Homo sapiens: one gene and its partner. The protein of the gene in region 1 interacts with the protein of each later gene in a pairwise test. Each region holds a gene or a part of one and is shown in the gene's direction. Other genes may lie near its edges.

Region 1 (3,443 bases):
AGACTCTCATCTCAAAATAATAAATAAATAAATAAATAGGGCTTGAAGGTGAGATTTTAATACTAACTTTGTTTTCTTTAAAAAGTTATTCAGGCTAGTGGCTCATGCCTGTAATCCCAGCACATTTTGAGGCCGAGGCAGGAGGATTGCTTGAGGCCAAGAGTTCGAGACTAGCCTAGGCAACATAACAAGATTCTGTCTCTACAAAAAAAAAAAAAAAAAAATATATATATATATATATATATATACACATATATATAACATATATACACACAATATATATAACATATATATGTAATATATATAACATATACACTATATATAACATATATGTAATATATATAACATATATATGCATACTTGTAGAAGAAAATATGGAAAAATATTTAAAAAGAAGAAAATAAATATCACTATAGTCTCATTGCTGATAAATAACCATTAATGTTCTGATGTGTACACTTCCAGTCTGTGCTTTGCATATGTTTATGTTTAACGTTTCTTAAAAAAAACTGGGACCATAGCATATGAAAACTTTTGAGGCTGGGCGTGGTGGCTCATGCCTGTAATCCCAGCTCTTTGGGAAGCCGAGGCAGGCGGATCACCTGAGATCGGGAGTTCAAGACCAGCCTGACCAACATGGAGAAACTCCGTCTCTACTAAAAATATAAAATTAGCCGGGCGTGGTGGCACATGCCTGTAATGCCAGCTACTCAGGAGTCTGAGGTGGGAGAATTGCTTGAACCCAGGTGGCAGAGGTTGCAGTGAGCCGAGATCGTGCCATTTCACTCTAGCCTGGGCAACAGGAACGAAATTCTGTCTCAAAAAAAAAATAAAAGAAAAGAAAAAAGAAAAATTCTGTATTCTGCATTTTCACTTACTTGTATTTTGTGAGCGTTTCTCTTACAATTTAGTCTTTGAAAACATTATTTTTAATGGCTGCATAATATCCCACTGTACGGATATATTTTCATTTTTGTTTATTCTTTTTGAGACGGAGTCTCACTGTGTTGCCCAGGCTGAAGTGCAGTGGCCCGATCTCGGCTTACTGCAACCACCGCCTCCCGGGTTCAAGCAATTCTTGTGTCTCAGCCTCCCGAGTAGCTGGGACTATAGGTACACACCACCAGGCCTGGCTAATTTTTTTTGTATTTCTAGTAGAGATGGGATTTCACCATGTTGGCCAGGCTGGTCTCGAACTCCTGACCTCAGATGATCCACCTGCCTCAGCCTCCCAAAGTGCTGGGATTACAGGCATGAGCCACTGTACCTGACCCCACTGTATAGACATGAACTTTAGCTATTCCTTTTCTGATGAGCATTTAGGTTTTTCCTGTTTTAAAAAAATTCTCAGTGGCTCAAGCCAGTAATCCCAGCACTTTGGGAGGCTGAGGCAGGCGGATCACGAGGTGAGGAGATCGAGACCATCCTGGCTAACACAGTGAAACCCCATCTCTACTAAAAATACAAAAAATTATCCAGGCGTGGTGGCGGGCACCTGTGGTCCCAGCTACTTGGGAGGCTGAGGCAGGAGAATGGCGTGAACCTGGGAGGCGGAGCTTGCAGTGAGCCGAGATGGCGCCACTGCACCCCAGCCTGGGTGACAGAGCGAGACACGGTCTCAAAAAAAAAAATTCTAAATAACACTGTAAGATATTAGTACAGAATTTTGACCACATCCCTATTTCTTTTGTATAGATTTCTGGAAGTGAGATTTCAGGTCCTAAGAGTTATGAACATTTTTGAGGTTCTTGATAATATTGCCAAATTGCTCTCCAGAAAAGTTGACCAATTTACATCCAGTTTTTCAACTAAAAATCTTAAGATTTTTTTCAACTCAAGATTTTCAGTTAACAATCTTAAGAAAAACTTGACAAATCCTGAAACTTCTCTTTATGCTTTGATAAGTCCATTCTGCTCATCTGTCAAAGAACCACTTCCTGTGTCACGGCTTGTCACTTTTTTTATTTTTTTTGAAATGGAGTTTTGCTCTTTTTGCCCAGGCTGGAGTGCAATGGCGTGATCTCGGCTCACTGCAACCTCCGACTCCCTGGTTCAAGCAATTCTCTTGCCTCAGCCTCCCCCGTAGCTGGGATTACAGGCATGCACCACCATGCCCGGCTAATTTTGTATTTTTAGTAGAGTTGAGGTTTCTCCATGTTGGTCAGGCTGGTCTCAAATTCCTGACCTCAGGTGATCTGCCCGCCTCAGCTTCCCAAAGTGCTGGGATTATAGGCGTGAGCCACCGCACCCGTCCTGTCACTTCATTTTTATAGTGCTACAGAACCATGTTTTCTCCTCTCTGTTCATGTTCCCTTTTCTGACTCCACCTTTGGGTTTTTGTATCTTCCAGGTTCAGGTGTGGGACACAGCAGGTCAGGAACGTTTCCGCAAAAGCATGGTCGAGCATTACTACCGCAACGTACATGCCGTGGTCTTCGTCTATGACGTCACCAAGATGACATCTTTCACCAACCTCAAAATGTGGATCCAAGAATGCAATGGGCATGCTGTGCCCCCACTAGTCCCCAAAGTGCTTGTGGGCAACAAGTGTGACTTGAGGGAACAGATCCAGGTGCCCTCCAACTTAGCCCTGAAATTTGCTGATGCCCACAACATGCTCTTGTTTGAGACATCGGCCAAGGACCCCAAAGAGAGCCAGAACGTGGAGTCGATTTTCATGTGCTTGGCTTGCCGATTGAAGGCCCAGAAATCCCTGCTGTATCGTGATGCTGAGAGGCAGCAGGGGAAGGTGCAGAAACTGGAGTTCCCACAGGAAGCTAACAGTAAAACTTCCTGTCCTTGTTGAAACCAAACGATATAAATACAAGATAAATTATCACTGGAGTTTTTTCTTTCCCTTTTTTCTGTGCCTGCATAATGCTGACACCTGCTTGTTTCCATACAAATTGATATCAAAATAAAATTTGTATAGATTATCACATGGCTTTTTGTCTTGCTTTCCTCCAAGACATTCCTGATTGTGATGAGCAGAACAGGCAGTTTGCCCTACTAGAGTGATATTCTCCATGCCAGTGGCACACTCCCTACCAGCTTTCTAGGCTCTCTGAAATTCTCATCGTTTGAGTCACTTCTTCAGGACTAATTCATTCTCTCACTCAGTGTAATCAGTGGGCAGAAACACCCGGTGGGGTTGGGACACAGGCCAGATATGTTTTTCTAGAGAGCAAGTGCAGGTGGAGTGATAGAGAAGTCTTGAAAGGAGATGTGGACTCATCAGTATTTCCTAGGTTCCCTAGATATGTGCCTTGAATGTCCAGATAGACTACTCTCTCCCTATTTTCCAGTTTAAAAGTAAAAAGTATGGCCGGACGCAGTGGCTCACGCCTGTAATACCAAGACTTTGGGAAGCTGAGGCAGGCAGGTCACTTGAGGTCAGGAGTTAGAGACCAGCCTGGCCAACATGGCGAAAACCTGTCTCTACT
Region 2 (7,897 bases), on another chromosome or scaffold:
GCAAGAAGGAGCACATAAGTACATATGTTGGTCCATTTCTCCAGTTGAGCAAGGGTTTCAGGGATATTGGTTATATTCTTTAAGGACTTAAAATTATACATTAAGTTTGCTATTTTTAAAAAGCGTACAATGCATCATTTTAGAAAGTGATTCCCCCCTTCATTTATCTTTTTCTATTTTGGAATTTATCAGGTGTTCTTAATGTGTCCAACTAGTATGTAAATGTGGAGGGAACTCAGAGACAGAGTGGTAGTAGGGTGAACCAAGTACATAGTGGAAGCATTTTATCTACCCTTTGTGAGCCCATGACAGAAAAGTCCATACTGGGTTCTCAGTTTGTCAGAATGTGCCCACTTACTAAAAGCCTGAACTTAATATGTAAGTTGGGGGGCCTAGAGGAAGGTATGGGTTGTGCAGCATTAAGGTGTAAAGTATGGAGGCTGATAAAAAAAATTTCTTCAAATCTTAAATTTGTTGAAACTCATCTTTAGGAAATTTCATGAAGAGACTTTGCGTGTGTGTGTGTGTGTTTGTGTGTGTGTGTTTTAAATGTCTTTTTATTTTCTCTGAATAAAATTTAACATCCGGGGATGAGGAAGAGTTAGGATAGAGTGCTGAAGTTGCAGAGTGTAGAAGGAACATGGACTTTGGAGGTATCTAGACAGAAGTAGCTTGGAGTAACAGATCTGCTACTCGCTAATTGTGTGATTCTGGGCCAGTTACGTGGCTGAACTTTGGTTTCATTGTGTATAAAGAGAAGGTATCAATCTCTGTTTTGCAGTGCTTTTGTGAAGACTTGACATGGTATTTTTTTTTTTTTTTTTTTTTTTTTTTGAGACAGAGTCTTACACTGTTGCCCAGGCTGGAGTGCAGTGGCGCGATCTTGGCTTACTGCAACCTCCGCCTCCCGGGTTCACGCCATTCTCCTGCCTCAGCCTCCTGAGTAGCTGGGATTACAGGCACCCACCACCATGCCCAGCTAATTTTTTTGTATTTTTAGTAGAGACGGGGTTTCACCGTGTTAGCCAGGATGGTCTCAATCTCCTGACCTCGTGATCTACCTGCCTCGGCCTCCCAAAGTGCTGGGATTACAGGCGTGAGCCACCGCACCCAGCCCTTTACATGGCATTTGTAAAGCACCTAACAGAAAATAGAAATTTAATAAATGATAGCTATTTTAGGTAATTTTTCCACAATATATAACAGAGACATTGAGCCTGTCAAGTTAACCTTTGTCTTATAGTAGCAGCCGAGTACAAATATCCTTTAAGAGGAATGTAACTTCTGACTTTGAAGTGTGACTCTTATTTGCTTTGAATCCATCATAATGTGGAAAATACAGACTGTTTAAGCAGCTAGAACGTAGTATTTTTTGGATCTTCATTTTGGATTTGAACTTCACACAGGCCTATTCTTTTAGGGCCACAGACTGAACTCCCACCCGCCTCACAACCATCTTACAAATAGGTGCCATTACTCACAAATGGGATCAAATGAGAAAATAGTTCAATACAGCTCATACAGTAATTACTCTGTATGTGAGAAAAAAAATCAAGGTTTGAATATCTTACTGATGGCTTAACTTTAACTTCATATTCAAAGCTAAGATGTTTACTTAGTAAAGACCAAAATGTAAAAACGGTACTAAGCAATATCTAAAATCTTTTTTTTTTTTCTTTGAGACGGAGTTTCACAGGCTGGAGTGCAGTGGTGCAATCTCACCTCACTGCAACCCCCGCCTCCCAGGTTCAAGCGATTCTCCTGCCTCAGCCTCCAGAGTAGCAGATTACAGGCATGTGCCACCACGCCCAGCTAATTTTGTATTTTTAGTAAAGATGGCGTTTCTCCATGTTGGTCAGGCTGGTCTTGAACTCCCGACTTCAGGTGACCCGCCTGCCTCAGCCTCCCACAGTACTGGGATGACAGGCATGAGCCACCGTGCCCGGCCGTAGAATTGTTTTTATAAGTTTCTACAAATAGCACTGTTTTCATAGTAACTTCTTTGCCTGTGAACAATGGATAACTGTTCGTGCTGAAGACTCAATGGTGTTTACCTAAAGAACAGCGTAGAAGTACAGTTTTTCTTGCCCACCCCCGGGTCTTATTTCTGAAATGGCTGCCAACACCTCAAACTGGTAGATCTGGGAAATTCAAGGATACCAATACAGGCATGTTTTTCTTTCCTTGCCAAAAACTTTAGTTGTTTTGGGCTTGCCTCTCTGTGTCCTCTACCTGGAGAGAGGCAGGGTGGGATGGATCTTCCGAAGGAATGTTAATCAAGTTTCTTGCTCACTAACCTTGATGTTCCTGTTGTGTTGGTATGTTGCAATCAATCTAGATCTGTTCAAGTTAGTAAATGCTTACTGGGGTGAAGAGATTGTTGTGGTTTGTGACAAGGCCAAATTCAGGTTTTGGACCCCAGACAATCACATGGCATTCGGATTTATTCATGTATTCCTTGTTCTGTTTTAAGAACATATCAGTGATCTAGAGTTTTGATATCACACATACAGATAGCTAGGGCTGTTTGGAGTTGTGGTTCCAGGAATGTCCCATGTAATTTGAAGGTTTTAATGACTACTTACTATGTTTTGAAGTATTGCATGATATAAAGTGAATCTATAAACTGTCCCCTTATTAATATATAATATGGGAATATTTTTGGCTAGAAAGGAATTGAACTGAATTAAATGAGAATGTGTTAAATGAAGGCTTGTGTTCAGTATTTGGATATGAAAATTCTGTTTCCTGGAAAAGGTGTTTCTGTCTTACTGCTGCGTGCCTAGTGCCTGGATCACTACCTGGCATGTGGAGCACCTCTTAGTGAATATCTGTTGAATGAATGAATGAATGAATGGCTCTGAGTCTAGATGTAGGGTAATGATGAGAGAGAATGAGATAGAAATAAAACCAGGAGTATTTTGCTTTCCTTAGTAACTTACTGATTTTCCCCAATTATAAATAAGCCTATATATATGCCTTCTTACATTGTACCAGTATACCCTCCTTCTTTTTTTTATTTTGAGACAGGGTAGAGTGCAGTGGTATGATCTCGGCTCACTGCAGCCTCTGCCTCCTGGCCTCACGTGATTCTTCCACCTCAGTCTCCCAAGTAGCTAGGACCACATGTGCGCGCAACCATACCTTGCTAATTTTTGTTTTTGTAGAGATGGAGTTTTGCCATGTTGCCCAGGCTGGTTTCAAACTCCTGAGCTCAAGCCATTCACCTGCCTCAGCCTCCCAAAGTGCTGGGATTACAGGCACATGCCACCACATCTGACTAATTTTTGTATTTTTAGTAGAGATGAGGTTTCACCATGTTGGCCAGGCTGGTCTCGAACTCCTGACCTCAGGTGATTTGCCCGCCTTGGCCTCCCAAAGTGCTGGTATTATAGGCATGAGCCACCGCGCCCAGCCATCCGCCCTGTCTTCGTAACAATATGAAAATGCCAGTTTCTCTACAGAATTTGATTATTAGCATTTTTTTCTTTCAGTTCAGTCTCAAATTATGATGAAGCATTTGAGATTTTAACAATATTCAAGGAGAATTTTTTTAGTTTTCAGAAATTAGGTAAATCAAGATGTCCCTCTGATAACAATCCCTAGAAAGGAATAGTCTCAGGTCATATTTCTTGAATTTGTATGTTCCTCCTTAAAATTGGAACCCTTCAATACAAAAACAAACAAACACTTTCTTTCAATTGTCCAAAACATTTTCAAAGAAAATTCTTATTCTTCTCTTTGTAATTTATGTAGTTCATAAAGCAAGTACCTGCCCTTTTGCTACCAAGGTATAAATGCCTCATTGGATAATATAGGGCCGTGTGTGTGTGTGTGTGTGTGTGTGTGTGTGTGTGTGTGTGTGTGTATTAAGAAAATATAATTGTCTTCAGTATCTTATCGAATGGGAGGATTTTAAAAATATAACATGGTTTAATCTGCTTAGAAACATATTTCATGCTTAAGGCTGGGCATGGTGGCTCACGCCTGTAATCCCAGCACTTTGGGAGGCTGAGGTGGGAGGATCATGAGGTCAGAAGTTCAAGACCAGCCTGGCCAAGATGGTGAAACCCCGTCTCTACTAAAAATACAAAAATTAGCTGGGCGTGGTGGTGGGTGCCTGTAATCCCAGCTACTCGGGAGGCTGAGGCAGAGAATTGCTTGGACCTGGGAGCTGAGATCACGCCACTGCACTCCAGCCTGGGCTACAGAGCAAGACTCTGTCTCAAAAAAGAAAAAAGAAAAAAAAAGAAACGTATTTTATGCTTAATACAGAAACTTGATAAATACAACAAAATCAAAAAGGGGGGAAATTGCCATTAATTGGGAAAGATTTTACTTTTTTAACTTGAAGTTTTTTTTTTGCATTTCTGCCTAACCTAAAAGGTCAGGTTTTTGTACCTTGGAGAAGGAAATTATAAATGCCCAAGAATAAGATATTTAAATTGAAAATCTACTTTAGCTTTTCTTTTTATCTTTTTGTTTTTTTTCCCTCTGAGAACCTCAATTTTTTATGCTTTAGCTTTTCTTAAAACATAACATTTAGCATAGTAAAGAATTTTAATAGCTATGTAGATAAGAATGAAAGAGGTGAATTATATGCTTGTTAAATTAATCTAACTGCCTCTTTTACCATCTTTACTATAGATTATTATCCGGTATTAATTGTCATCCTTTTATTCAGTCCTTGATCCCAAAGTAAGAAGAATTGATGAGGATATGTGCATTGTGTTATGTCTGATCACAGTTTGACTAGCACAGTCTGGAAGTGGGTTGTACAGGATGAGAGAGAGAAGCCTAATTGCTCTCCCAGCATCAGCAGCATCTATAAAGCATCCTGGGAATTGCTTGCCCTACGTTCAGAGCAGCTGGTCACATGAGCCTGAATTTTCAGTTCAGTTCATTAGTCAGCCATTTTGGTCAACACCCTGCTTACTGCGCACGGCCAATCCTATGAGAACTCAGCATCCCAGCTCATCTGAGCAGATCCTGGAAGTGATTTCTGCAGCTCAGGATTTTTTTTTTAAGCTACATTGAAAATATAGGTTTATTTTTTGTTCAGGTTTTTCTTTTATATTTTTTTTCTGCACAAAGGAGGAGGATTTTTCACTTACTCATATCGAGGCCAGATTTTTAAAGCCAGCTAAGGCAGCATCAGCTGTGCGGGATTTAAAGCCTATAGCTCAGCTGAAAAAAAAGGTGGGGGGCAGGGAAGGGAAGATAAAAGGAGAGGAAGCTGGGAGAAGACAAGCATCATCTTATTTTGCTATGTGGTAGGAACTGTCTATAAGATAGTGTAGAATTGTTTATCTTGAGCAGTTTGTTCTTAACCTATAAGGTATTTTTCCTTTTTTTTTTTTTTAAACCTCCCCCACCCTTTTCCTGAAAGCTTTGTTTCAGAGCTTTGTATTGGGTTTTTTTGGTGAGGAGGTTGTATTTATTTTTTTGGTGTGTGTGTGTGAGTGTGTGTGTGTCTGTGTGTGTGTTGTGGTCCCAGCTGAGTCATCATGTCTGCTCTGACGCCTCCGACCGATATGCCAACCCCCACCACTGACAAGATCACACAGGCTGCCATGGAGACCATCTACCTTTGCAAATTCCGAGTGTCCATGGATGGAGAATGGCTCTGCCTGCGAGAGCTGGATGACATCTCACTTACACCTGACCCAGAGCCTACCCATGAAGGTATGGTCAGATCCTGTCCGCTAGTATTTCACCAGCATCCTCATTGTTATGGGGGAGGGCTGGGAGGATCAGGGAGAGGTAGAAAGAACCTACACTCTCAACTGTTAACAGTCCTGAAAACCTTGCATCCTTACTTACCACCCAGCTCCCCTTCTCTTGCTCATGGGGGAAAGATAATTTTTTTTCTTGCCCCTTTAGGTATCCTTTCAAAAGATGCTGGATACTCGTTTAGAGTTCTTTGTCTTTAAGCCTCTAAATAAAACATTTGAGGTCACTTATCACATCTGATTCTATTCAATAATGAGAAAGCTATTAATTTTGTTCATATATGAAAATGTTATAGAAATTGTAGTGATTTATAACACTAAGTTAAGACAACATGACTATAATTATAGGATTGTACATGATGAATACAGTAGAAACACCAGGGTATTTGGTAATGGTATCCTCACCATTATATGAGGATACAATTTTAAGCAAGTTATGACATCTAGGAAATGTTTGATAAAACATTTTTTTAACAATATGGATTATTAGGTTAGATGAGAAAATAACTTTTCAGCATTTATTTATTGAATATGGACTCCTAAGAAAGCATAATGCCTGGAAAGGTTAAATATGATTAATATGGCATCCCTATAGATTACAATAGAATGGTAATATTGGAATCTATTGGCCATTGCTTTTTATAAATTATTTGTGGTAACTATTATGATCCATTTGAGATTTCCACTGTCAGTACCTCTGAGATCTTTGTGGTCTCTTGACTTGCGACTTTTTTCCAGGACTCTTGCTAATTTATGAGAGGTTTTCTGCTTCTACCCTTTAATTCTCTTAATACCACAGAAAGAGAGCTGATTTGAATCATAGCTACAAATCGTTTTGTTTTTAATACAGTTGCTTCTTAGCTAAGGTTTATTCTCTGTCCTTATACTGATGAAAAAAAACAAAAAACGCTTGCATATGAGGAGAAATTCTTTATAAACATCTGCCTGATAGTTAGGCACATCGACAGGACAAAGAAGACCATAGGTGAATTGTACCTAGCAGATGGGGTTAGGAAAGGTGATTCTCTGCCTTTGACCTTGAGTTGAAATCTTATCATGACTCAGAATTTTCCCATTGTGTTTGATAAGCATTTTATCTTCCCAGTCAGCCTTAGCCTTGAGAAAGTTTTAGGGATGGTTAATAACACAGAACACAAAGCAGTCATTTTGGGTGTGTCTTTAAGAACAATGTTTAAGTGGTTTTTAAGACCCTTTGCATCTTTTAACAATTGGTTTGTTAATTAGACAGCTTTCTTTGGCTGTATGTTTCGTTATGTGCACAAGTTATAAGACATCAGCTGAAATTCCATGCAATGCCAGTACTATTTATTTTTTATTATTATTTTATTCTATATTTTCATCAAAACATCGTTACATCCAACAATTCCAGTACTACTTAAAACAGCCTCCAAAGCTTTAAAAGTCTTTAGGGAAGAAAAATACAGTTTTAGAAGGCTACCAAGAAGTCTTCTGGCAACTGCCTCAGTTTACATATTTTGTTTGAAAAAAATGTATTCCCGTCCAATTTGAGAGTTATACAATATGAAATATTCCCTTTATCATGAAATCTAGTTTACCAGTGTCTCAAAAATAATTTTTAACAATTTTAACACCTCAAATATATGTTTTTGGAGCAGGATTCCTATGGATAAGCAAAAGTGAGCTGTTTGGTTCATGTAAGCGTTTTTAGCAGCGCCATTTGAATTCTTCATAGAGAAATCTGTAGCAACACATTTCTCAGTATGGAAAATGTGTGAGAGCTATAATCTAAGTAATAAATTGTATGTCTGCTGATTAAAGAAATCAGATAAATACAGAGTTTCCAAGACCTGTAATCAACTATAGAGGATTTGGAAGAAAATAGAGAAATGCCGACAGTGCATTTTAGAATTTTGCCTTAAATTGGGCAAGAAAGCTATTATTTTAAATTACTAGAAATGAAAATAAAGAAAGCATAGTCCCATGAAAGCCTGTGAGTATTACTGCCTTGCTCCATTACCAAACTCTGGATATTTAAACAGTCATTTGGTCCCAAGAAATACCCACTTTTATGTTAATACCACTGATAGTTATTAGATTTAATTTAGCTATAAGCATTTAAGTGGTGGTCACCAGGCCCATGATTATGTGAATCTCACCTTGTTCACAAAATGGAACTCCTGATG

What was found. The genes of interacting proteins can lie anywhere in the genome.
Region 2: the proteins of RAB33A (region 1) and RUFY3 interact in binary tests that used the Homo sapiens proteins (3 or more experiments, as listed by UniProt).

What each region holds. Positions count from the first base shown.
Region 1 is NC_000023.11:130,181,935-130,185,377, forward strand, and holds the end of RAB33A (ras-related protein Rab-33A), read left to right. Parts: intron 1-2,350; coding exon 2,351-2,806; 3' UTR 2,807-2,936; downstream 2,937-3,443.
Region 2 is NC_000004.12:70,717,067-70,724,963, forward strand, and holds the start of RUFY3 (protein RUFY3), read left to right. Parts: upstream 1-4,897; 5' UTR 4,898-5,507; coding exon 5,508-5,685; intron 5,686-7,897. UniProt on the Homo sapiens protein: ARL8 effector that promotes the coupling of endolysosomes to dynein-dynactin for retrograde transport along microtubules. Acts by binding both GTP-bound ARL8 and dynein-dynactin.